Linked DNA regions of Homo sapiens: all the other regions are linked to region 3. Evidence: fine-mapped expression QTL. A gene starts in region 3. Each other region holds a variant in brackets. All regions are shown on one strand. Distances are from middle to middle.

Region 1 (2,746 bases), 82 kb before region 3:
TCTCTGGGCTTTTCGAGTGCTGTGACGTTTTCTGTCATTAACCAAGACATTTTCCACCACTAGGTCCTGGATGGAAGGGCAAGAGTCTGCAGCGGTGAATGCTTGGCCATGCCATAACTTGCACTGTTTTTTTGAATCCCTTTTTTCTCTGACTGAACATCTCCTTCCCAGCCCCAAGGGTAATTCATTCAGCTTTTCTGAGGTTACTGTCTTTGAGTCCCATCCGATTATTTATACAGACTTCTGCATAAACACTCATCCAAGGGCAATGACCACCTGGCCCCTCAGACAGTACTAAGTTGCTGCCCACGTAAGACACCACGTGTCTTATTTTAGATTTGTAGGTTATACAAGAGAATAAGTTACTTTTTCCCTTCCCTAGAGGGAGCATCTACCCTTTATTAGCCTTTCTTTACAACCCTAGTTACTCACAGGAAACAGTTTTAGCACAAAATAGCAAGAAACAAAGGCTATTTCACAATGTATGTCCAAGCCAATGGCATATGATGTGGTAAACAAATTTCTGAAATAACCGACAAGCAGGTTGTTTTTTCAACAGTTCCTTTTTCCAAAATAAGCTTCTCTCCACAGACTCATTGGGAACAAAGAAAAATTCCAGAGCAGAACATCGATAATGCATCAAAGAAGCTTTTATGAGCAAAACCTGGATTCAACAGCCTGCTAGGAAGGCCCAACGAATGTCATAAAAATTTAAGAGTTTAAAGAAACAATGTGCATACATTTCCTAATATTGCCATTTGGCTATAGGATGAAATGTGTGGAGGATATTCATTTCGCTGTCTCAACTGTATAAACACACTAAGAAATGGTAACTTTCCAAAAATGGCTTCCAAATAAGTGTAGAGAAAATTCAATGGTTTGAAGCTGAAGCAAGCCCATCAAAACTGCGTCACTCTTGGGATATGTGTTATTTAAAACTAACCTCTAAAACTAAAGTAGGACAGATTTACTGAAGTCTGTGGTGTAACATTTCCTATTACAAATGGCCAGGAGGCCAGCCCAGTTTTTCTATTACAAAGAGTGTGTAGTGCCCCCACTCCTTTTTGGCCGCACCCAGTGTACC[G/A]CCAGGGGGGTTGCACAAGGGACAGTGTGGTCCAGGAGATGACACAGCGGAGGACCCTACTCCTGTGTGTTTCTTTCCCTTGATTATAAAAACAATGCATATTCACTGCAGAAAACACCCATAAACCTGCTACTCAGATTTAAAACATTTTAAACATTATTTAAAACAGTTTTACTATATTTTCTTTCAGTCTCTTTTCAGTGTATATATACATTTAAGAATACAGAACTTTTAAAAAGCAAAATTAGGCCGGGCGTGGTGGTTCATGCCTGTAATCCCAGCACTTTGGGAGGCCAAGGCGGGCAAATCACGCAGTCAAGAGATTGAGACAATCTTGGCCAACATGGTGAAGTCCCGTCTCTACCAAAAATACAAAAATTAGCTGGGTGTGGTGGTGCGTGCCTATAGTCCCAGCTACTCAGGAGGCTGAGGCAGGAGAATCGCTTGAGCCCAGGAGGCAGAGGTTGCAGTGGGCCGAGACCGTGCCACTGTACTCCACCCTGGCCACAGAGCAAGGCTATCTCAAAAAAAAAAAAAAAAAAAAAAAAAAGCAAAATTAGATCTGGCTACATGGTTTTGTATTCTTTGAGAAGGAGTCTCGCTCTGTCGCCCAGGCTGGAGTGCAGTGGCGCGATCTCGACTCACTGCAAACTCCGCCTCCCAGGTTCAAGGGAGGCTACCTCAGCCTCCCAAGTAGCTGGTATTACAGGCATTCACCACCACGCCTGGCTAATTTTTTGTATTTTTAGTACAGACGGGGCTTCTCCATGGTAGTCAGGCTGGTCTCAAACTCCCAACCTCAGGTGATCTGCCTGCCTCGGCCTCCCAAAGTGCTGAGATTACAGGTGTGAGCCACCATGCCCGGCTGGTTTTGTATTTTTTTTTTTTTTTACAGTTTTACTTAGATATAATTCATAGATCATACAATTTTTCCATCCTTCCATAGCTGCTGTGGAAAACAGTATTGCGGTTCCTTAAACAATTTAAACAGAATTACCCTTAAGATGCACTAATTTCACTTCTGGCTATATACCCCAACAAATTTGAAAGCAGGGTCTCAAAACAAGATATGTGTACACTGATGTTCAGAGCAGCATCATTCACAATAGCTAAAATGTGGAAGCAAGCCAAGCACCCACCGATGGAGGAATGGATAAGCAAAATGGCGTACGTACACAATGGAGCATGATTCAGCCTCAAAAAGGAAGGCGATTCTGACTTACGCTACCACATGGATGAATCTTGAGGTCATTAGGCTAAGTGAAATAAGTCAGTCACAAAAAGACAAATACTGTATAATTCTACTTATATGAGGTACTTAGGATAGTCAAAATCCGAGAGACAGGGAATGGTGGTTGCCAGGGGCTGGGAGGAGGGGGACAGGGGAGTTACTGTTTAATGAGTATAGAGTTTCAATTATACAAGTTGAAGAGAATGGTGGGGGTCAATGCATAACATTATGAATGTATTCAATTCTACTGAACTATACATTTTAAAATGATTAAGATGGCAAACTTTATGTATTTTACCACAAAAATAATTTTTAAAAATAGAGTACATTCAATAGTTTTCAGTATATTGAGAGTTGTGTAGCTATCACCACAGTCAATTTTAGAACATTTTCGTCACTCCCCAAATAAACCCTGTACCCATTAGCAGTCA
Region 2 (2,746 bases), 76 kb before region 3:
GACAGCAATGCTGGGCTGTGACATCAGGGACCCCAGTGAACATAGCATACAATATGCACATGTAACACAAACCAAGGAAACAAAGCTCTAAAATCAGGTTTGTTTTTTAATTTGGGGAAATCTTTCAAAAGGAAGCATTTTATTGGATAATTTTCTTAACGTCAGTGCACAATTCTCCTCTTGATTTTCTTGAGTCTGATGAGAGTCCAGACAGCTGACAGCCTCGCATTTGGAGGGAGGGGAAACTCACCAGTGGTAAACAGGACCATTTGTAGAAAAGTTTTATATCACCCCACTCTTGCCTAGAGGGAGGTCTGCTTCCCACTAAAGCTGGGGTGACTCAGTGCAGAGGTAGTGGGTCGCAGGCCAGCAGAGGCATATGGTCTTTTATTGCCCTGACAAATTCAAACAGATCAGGTGAGTGACCTCTTCCACACTGAAGAGGATCAACGGATCAAGAGCAATGGCTTGCTTCTCATTAAGAACAGAAATACACATGGTCATTGTAAGAGGTCAAACACAGCCAAGGGCGGTGGCTCACGCCTGTAATCTCAGCACTTTGGGAGGCCGAGGCAGGTGCATCTCTTGAGCTCAGGAGTTCAAGACCAGACTGGGCAACATGGTGAAACCCCATCTCTACAAAAAATACAAAAATTAGCTGGGCATGGTGGCACACACCTGTAGCTCCAGCTACTTGGGAGGCTGAGCCCAGGAGGGTGAGAGGATCACTTGAGCCCAGGAGGTCGAGGTTGCAATGAGCCATGTTCACGACACTGCACTCCAGCCTGGGTGACACTGCGAGACCTTGTCTCAAAAAAAAAGAGGTCAAACACCTGGATATGAAAGAGAGGTTAAGTGTCCCCCAGGCAGAGACTGTGACTCTGAAGAGTGTGCAAAGTAGAGGCAGGAGGCCTCAGGCCAAGCAGGCTTTCAGAATAACCCAGCAAAATAGTCTCAGCGAGCCAAGGGGCCCCTGGGTTCTCAGGTGAGGTTTGCACACTCCATCACTTAGCAACTGTGTGACTAGGCTACCTAACTTCATCAAGCCTCAGTTTCTCCGCTTACAAAATGGAGACAATCCTGTCTAGTTTGCAGGACTGTTCAAGAGAGCAGAGTAATTCTATTAAAGTGCCTAACAGAGCCTGGCATCTGGCAGCTTACAGGAGTTATCTTATCAGAGATGATCCTAAGTCCGTGTCCGGTTACACTTTGTAAAGAATGTTCATGGTAAATCTTCAAAAGCACTGGGCATAGCCGAGGAGACTGAGAATTTGAAAATACAATGGTTTTGGAGGAATGAGACCTGAATCACCAGTGATTCTGCAACAACCCCTAGTGATCATCCAGTTGCTCAGGTCAAAGTGCAAATCTTGGCCTCTGCGTTCTCTCACGTCAGCAAATCCAGCCAGCGCCTCCTGCCAAGCACACCCCAGCC[G/C]AGCCTCTCCTCACCACCTACTGTCACTACCTTCACATTGATCCAGCCTTCACTATGACAGTCACCTCCCACTCCTTTTTTCCCTCTACAGCCAGTTCTCCACCAAGAGCCACTTATCTTTTTATACTTAGATCAGTCAACATCATACCCTGCTCAAAACCCTCCCATGGCCTCCCATCCTGATCCTCCAGCCTCCCTACCTCCCCATTTCCCTTGCTCACTGTCCGGCCAGGCCTCCTTGCTGTTCCTCGAATATTCCAAGCACATGCCTACAGCGGGCCCTTGGGTTGCTGCTTTTCCCACCTGGAGTGCTCCTCCCACACCCATCACCATGGCTCACTCCCCCGTGACCAACAGGTCTGTGCCCAAAAGTCACCTCCTCAAAGAGGCCCTTCCTGACCACCCATCCAAAATAGCAGAGAAAAACAGTACAAACTTTTTAAAATTAAAAATAAATAAATACATAAATAAATAAAATAGCAGTTCTGGCCACTTCCCCTCCTCCCTTGTCTGACTTTATTTTCATTCTTCCCACCACCTGGTGCTTGTTTCTTGCTGTCTTCCTGAGTAGATTACAAGTTCCCCAAAGGCAGGGTCCTTCTCTGTCTTGTGTACCACTGTTATCCCAGTGCCCACAACAGGGCTTCGGAGCACTTACGCATGAAGAAATGTGTCTAAGTCGAAAAGTGAAAAAGGTCCGGCCCAGCAGCCAGCTTTACCTTCTTCCCAGCTGTGGGGCTGCTCTCCGCACTCTGCAGGGGGCTCCTCTGGGGGCTTCGGCTTTCCTGGGGGACACACCTGCCCATGTACACGCTGTAGTCGAGAAGCATCTTCTGCCGCACGCTGCCTGCCAGCTCCTTCTGCTTTGGCTGTGACATGATCTCCTCCACACTGCCTTTGCTGCTGCTGCGGCTGTGGGTCAGGTGCCCGGACGGACTGTTGTGTCTGCTGTGTGCAGGCAAAAGCCCTGGAGCCAAGAAGACGGGGGCTATTCACACAATGAAGAAAACAACTGCAAAGTAAGCGGACTCCCTGAGAAAAGCAGCTACAATGCTATCAAATGACTGTTTAAAAATATTTATAAGGGGCTGGGCATGGTGGCTCACGCCTGTAATCCCAGCACTTTGAGAGGCCGAGGCGGGCGGATCACGAGGTCAGGAGATCGAGACCATCCTGGCTAACACAGTGAAACCCCATCTCTACTAAAAATACAAAAAATTAGCCGGGCGTGGTGGTGGGCGCCGGTAGTCTCAGCTACTCGGGAGGCTGAGGCAGGAGAATGGTGTGAACCCAGGAGGTGGAGCTTGCAGT
Region 3 (2,746 bases):
TGACTCCTCTGAATCCTCTGAGAATCCTCAAAACATGTAAAAGCCTCATTCCTTTTAATGCATGTGCAGAGCGGTGATGGTGTGAAGACGCTGGCACTTCAAACGTGAACGTGGCACGAGCCCTGCCCTCAAGGAGCCCACAATTTTCCCTCAACTCTAAAAAAGGATGTCCTCCCTGGACAGTGTCTGTAAAACACAGTGACAAAGTACTTCATAGCTCTGGAGAAAGAGCGAGGGTGGAAACAGACTTTGCCCTTACATTTGACGCCCAGTAACCATAACAACCGATGGTTTAAGTAACTATCAACCCACTGAGGGGCTAAGTTTTCCAAAAATCGTTTTCAAAAGGGGAAGACTCCCCTGCACCAACTCCCATGGCAGCCGTACGCTCTAGGCAGCGTGTGGTGCAATGTGGCCAGCCGTTCCCCGCCTTCTCCGGTTCCACCGTATGGTTTCCGTGCTCAGCAGCCAGCAGCGACGGCGTCCACGGCCACACCGCCTCCCCGCAAGGCACCTGGCGCTAGGCCTCAGCCCAATGTCACTTGTTAACCTTCCGATCCCCCGGATTTCGGCACGCCGCCGCCTCCCTGCTAAAGCACACAAACCACCCCACCGCCACCCGCGTTCTCCAGGAGTTGGAGAAAAACCACCGGGGCGCATACAACCTCTGACAGATTCGAGTAAAAGTAACTGCGGTTCTCGACTTTCAAGCATTTCGCGTCGCCGGTGAGGGGGGCGGCAGGAACCCGGGGCCCCATTCATAAAATTGCAAGCCGTTTTCCTCTAGTTTGCGCGTGACGGTGCCTCCCTGCCCGGGGCCGGGGACCGCAGGCTGAGGGGACGGGGCCGGCAGCTCCTCCCGCCGGAGTCGAGCCCGAGCCATCCGGCGGGGCCCCGAAGGAAGGGATTGCCCGGGGGTGTCGCGGGTGGGCGTCCCCTTCAATACCTGAACCATGACAGCGGGGTGGGGGGCCGAGCCCCGCCACGCCAAGGGCCGCCGGACCCGACCGGTACTTTGAAGCCCGCGGGGTCGATCCGCGCCCAGCCCGGGCCTTATCCGCGGGGCGCTCCCTCCACCGCCCCCGCCTGGCCCTGAGACTGCTCACCCAAGATCCGCTGGCTGCCTCATTGTACTATGCCGGCGCCCGTGCTCCCGGCCGCGCGACTCCGGCTTCGGCTGGGGCACCGGCCGCGGTCCTGCTGCCCTGCCGCCCGCCCGCCCCCGGGCACACGCCGCCCCGCCCCGCCGGCGGACCCGCCCCGCGCCCGCGGCCGCCGCCGCCAACCAGAGGGCGCGGGGGCGGAGCAAACGGCACGCCAGGCCCAACCAATCCAGTTCTACCGCGCGCCGAGGTGAGGCCGCGGAAATGGGGGAGCGATTTGTCAGGTCTGTTAAAGGGGCCACCGCCCTTGGAGCTAGGGAGAGGAGTGGTGGGGAGGGTTACCTGGAAGAGCCCCAGGTGAGGGGGACAAAAGCTTCACTCTCCCAACGGGGCTGCACACTGTCCCCAGCTCTTTGCACTTCTTAATTTCCTCTTCCTGCAGTCTAGCAGCAACAAGTGCCCTTGAGACGAGGGCTGGGGGTTGAGGTGGGGTGACTGAGGCGCGGAGAACCAGGGGTATCCCCCTGGGCAAATTCACTCGATTTGCATTTTAGAGGGCCATCAGACGTATCTATCCCCATCCAACTGCAGACATTGATTTAAAAAGGCAAATTCCCAGTTTCCCGCATTATGTACTTCCCCCACCTGACTACCACACTACCACATCCTATCCTGAACTAACTCTGTTACTAGTTTTTTTGTTTGAGACGGAGTCTCGCTCTGTCGCCAGGCTGGAGTGCAGTGCCGTCATCTGGGCTCACTGCAACCTCCGCCTCCTGGGTTAAAGCGATTCTCCTGCCTCAGCCTTCCGAGTAGCTGGGATTACAGGCGCGTGCCACCATGCCCAGCTAATTTTTGTATTTTTAGTAGAGACGGGGTTTCACCATGTTGGCCAGGATGGTCTCGGTCTCTTGACCTCGTGATCCGCCGGACCCAGCCTCCCAAAGTACTGGGATTACAGGCGTGAGCCACCGCGCCTGGCCACGAGTTCTTAGAGCTTAGAACTTATATAGTATTAACTACTCATTTTTAGAGAGGCAATATCTGAGGCTCAGAGAGGTAAAGTGACTTCTCGAGGTAAATTCTCACTTAGAATGAGCTTCCTGGGATGGCAATGCCCATTGTGCATTTATCTTCTGCGAACCTGGGTTGGCTGGCAGAAGCACTGGCACATAGGGAGAGTTCCCCCTTCCCCCGTAGTCCTTGCCCCTCTGCACTTCCCACCCACCACAAGAAAGGACCAAGACAACAAACAGATGTGTCAGTGTGTCTCCTGCATTAGTGGGTCCCAAATGTCAGATCTTCAACGTCAGATCATCCTGGAGGGTTTTAACATGAAGATCTCTAAGTCCCACCCCAGAACCTGTAATTCAGTAAGTCTGAGATGGCCTTCGACACCCCTCCCTCCAGGTGATTCTAATGCAAGTGGTACAAGGACCACACTCAGGTGCGTGTTTTGAGTCTATCATAGTCATGAAATTCAAATTCAATTGGCAAAATGAAAGCCAAACTCCTTTCATCCTCAGAATTAGTAATATGGTTGGGAGACTTGCTAGTAAGGGAGGAGGTCACCTACTAAGACACTCATAACAGAATAAGTCATGCCAAGAACTGAGTGTAGAAGGGCACTGGACCCAGATGAA
Region 4 (2,500 bases), 130 kb before region 3:
TTTAAGGGACATTTTAAAAGTTGTTCTCACTGTGAACACTTTGGTTTTTAGGTAAATAGGACTTTGGCTTTTCCTGTTCTAGGATGACTGGATTTGAAAAGATTGTGACACTTGTTTAAGAACTTCCCTTTACCACAGAATCCCACTCACTACACACTTTCTTAGGTTGCAAAAGTGATTATTTCTTTTTTTTCACATTATACCATAAGGAGTAAAAAGTGATTATTTCTTATTATCTTTTTTATTGGCTGTTTGCTGTTTGGAAATGTGCAACTACATGCTTTATGGTATCATCTTGTCTTATCTTTACTCTAAGACCATGACCTTTGCCTGATGTAGTGGATGTTATTTAATTTTAAGAGACAAGGCCTCTGCCCCGCTACCTATCACTCACCACCCCACTCCCAGGTTCTACCCTGTGGGGTAGCTTAGGCTAATCCTGACTGGTTATTTGTTCACTTGTCTCTGGGTGTTGTATTTCACACGCATTTGTGCCAAGTCTATACACCGCCACAGAAAGTATCCGTGTCCCCAGTTTATATACATTAATATTCTCAAAGGGCCAAGGCAGCACCAAGATGGAAACGGCCATCTCTCAAAGTACCTCCACTTCCTCACTGGCCAGGCCGTCCTAATCCCCTGAGGTCTGGCTTAATTCCACAGAACTCTCTGGAAACTTCTCTCAAGCACTTCATAAACATTCTTCCTCTTGTAAAATCCCTTTGGACCTAATTCCTGGGTTTGTTTTTTTCCCCCCAGCCACCGGGCCTCTTTTCAATTCAGGTATATTAAGGGTTCTTTTCTCTTGAACTTTTCCTCCTTGGATATTACCATTTTCTGGCTTTCCTCCTGTGTCTCTGCTTTTTTTCCTCCTTCCAGATTCTGTGTGGTTTATTTGGGGGGCAGGGGGTGGGGGTAGGGACGGGGTTTGAGTCAGGGTCTG[C/T]GTCTATTGCCCAGGCTAGAGTGCAGTGGTGTGATCTAGGCTCACTGCAACCTCTGCCTCCCAGGCTGAAACCTCCAGGGGCATACCATCCTCTCTTCTCGGCCTCTGGAGTAGCTGGGACCACAGACAGGCACCATCACACCCAGCTAATTTTTTTATATTTTGTAGATGCCAGGCGAGTGGGTCTCACTTTGTTGCCCAGGCTGGTCTCAAACTCATGAGCTCAAGCAATCAGCCTGCCTAAGCCTCCCAGAGTGCTGGGATTTGGCCTGGTGCGGTGGCTCACGCCTGTAATCCCAGCACTTTGGGAGGCCAGGGAGGGCGGATCAGGAGGTCAGGAGTTCGAGACCAGCCTGGCCAATATGGTGAAACCCCATCTCTACTTAAAATACAAAAATTAGCCGGGCGTGGTGGCACGTGCTTGTAGTCCCAGCTACTCGGGAGGCTGAGGCAGAAGAATCACTTGGACCCCAGAGGCAGAGATTGCAGTGAGCCGAGATCGTGCCAGTGCACTCCAGCCTGGGCGATAGAGCAAGACTCTGTCTCAAAAAAAAAAAAAAAAAAAAAGTGTTGGAATTACAGGCATGAGCCCCTGTGGCCAGCCAGTACATTGCTTGAGGCTTAATATGTAGACCTTATCTATTTTCTCTTTCCTTTCTTCCTAGGAGGACTCATTTAACATATTTTATATACCAAATTTTATTTTATTTTATTATTTATTTTTGAGACAGAGTCTTTCTGTCGCCCAGGCTAGAGTGCAGTGGCGTGATCTTGGCTCACTGCAACCTCTGCCTCCCGGGTTCAAGCAATTCTCTGCCTCAGCCTCCCAGGTAGCTGGGATTACAGGTGCCTGCCACCAAGCCTGGCTAATTTTTTGTATTTTTAGTAGAGGCGGGGTTTCACCATCTTGGCCAGGCTGGTCTTGAACTCCTGACGTCATGATCCACCCGCCTCAGCCTCCCAAAGTGCTGGGATTACAGGCATGAGCCACCGCGCCCGGCCTTTTATATACCAAATTTTAGAGCAGAAAGGCACTTTAGCCATAATGTAGTCAGCTTCATTTCGCAGATGACTTCATCTTTGACCTCTACATGGATAACTACAATGCATTCATTCAACAAAAATCACTGAAGGCTTCCAAGTACCAGGGATTAGTGCCATAAGGAAATATTAGAGAATTTTCAGGTTGATACAGGACATGCACAGAAATAACCAAGGTACAAGACTGATGGTGAAGGCCTGGTGTGGTGGCTCACGCTTGTGATCCCAGCACTTTGGGAGGCCGAGGCAGGCAGATCACCTGAGGTCAGGAGTTTGAGACCAGCCTGGCCAACATGGTGAAACCCTGTCTCTGTTAAAAATACAAAAATTAGCTGGGTGTGGTGGCAGATGCCTTTAGTACCAGCTACTTGGGAGACTGAGGCAGGAGAATCACTTGAACCCCAGGAGGCAGAGGTTGCAGTTAGCTGAGATCATGCCATTGCACTCCAGCCTGGGCGACAAGAGCAAAACTTCATCTAAAAATAATAATAATAATAATAATAATAATAATAATAA

Alleles and levels. Alleles are on the strand shown, and positions count from the first base shown. SD is a standard deviation of normalised expression in the study named. Not every link is listed here.
As copies of C replace G in region 2, the expression in liver of the gene that starts at base 1,199 in region 3 goes up (small effect, 0.32 SD a copy in GTEx).
As copies of C replace T in region 4, the expression in pancreas of the gene that starts at base 1,199 in region 3 goes down (small effect, 0.28 SD a copy in GTEx).

Evidence for each region. PIP is the estimated chance that this variant, and not a neighbour inherited with it, causes the effect. A credible set is the group of variants that fine-mapping cannot tell apart.
Region 1: its variant is the best candidate, but not a certain one, in a credible set for the expression of TEX2 in whole blood (TOPMed, PIP 0.70).
Region 2: its variant is the best candidate, but not a certain one, in a credible set for the expression of TEX2 in liver (GTEx, PIP 0.58).
Region 4: its variant is the best candidate, but not a certain one, in a credible set for the expression of TEX2 in pancreas (GTEx, PIP 0.80).

Annotation. Positions count from the first base shown.
Region 1 is chr17:64,179,865-64,182,610 of GRCh38, forward strand. The region is part of intron 5 of TEX2 (testis expressed 2); the gene reads right to left. Among named protein-coding and RNA genes, the nearest start is that of SNORA50C, 35 kb to the left of the region's middle. The variant G/A (reference allele first, on the strand shown) is at 1,085.
Region 2 is chr17:64,186,014-64,188,759 of GRCh38, forward strand. It overlaps TEX2 (testis expressed 2), which reads right to left. Exons shown (of 12, transcript NM_001288732.2): 5 at 2,155-2,402. Among named protein-coding and RNA genes, the nearest start is that of SNORA50C, 41 kb to the left of the region's middle. The variant G/C (reference allele first, on the strand shown) is at 1,436.
Region 3 is chr17:64,262,062-64,264,807 of GRCh38, forward strand. TEX2 (testis expressed 2) reads right to left here and starts at 1,199. Exons shown (of 12, transcript NM_001288732.2): 1 at 1,107-1,199. RefSeq lists a silencer at 787-1,396.
Region 4 is chr17:64,134,533-64,137,032 of GRCh38, forward strand. No RefSeq gene overlaps it. Among named protein-coding and RNA genes, the nearest start is that of ERN1, 5.6 kb to the left of the region's middle. The variant C/T (reference allele first, on the strand shown) is at 944.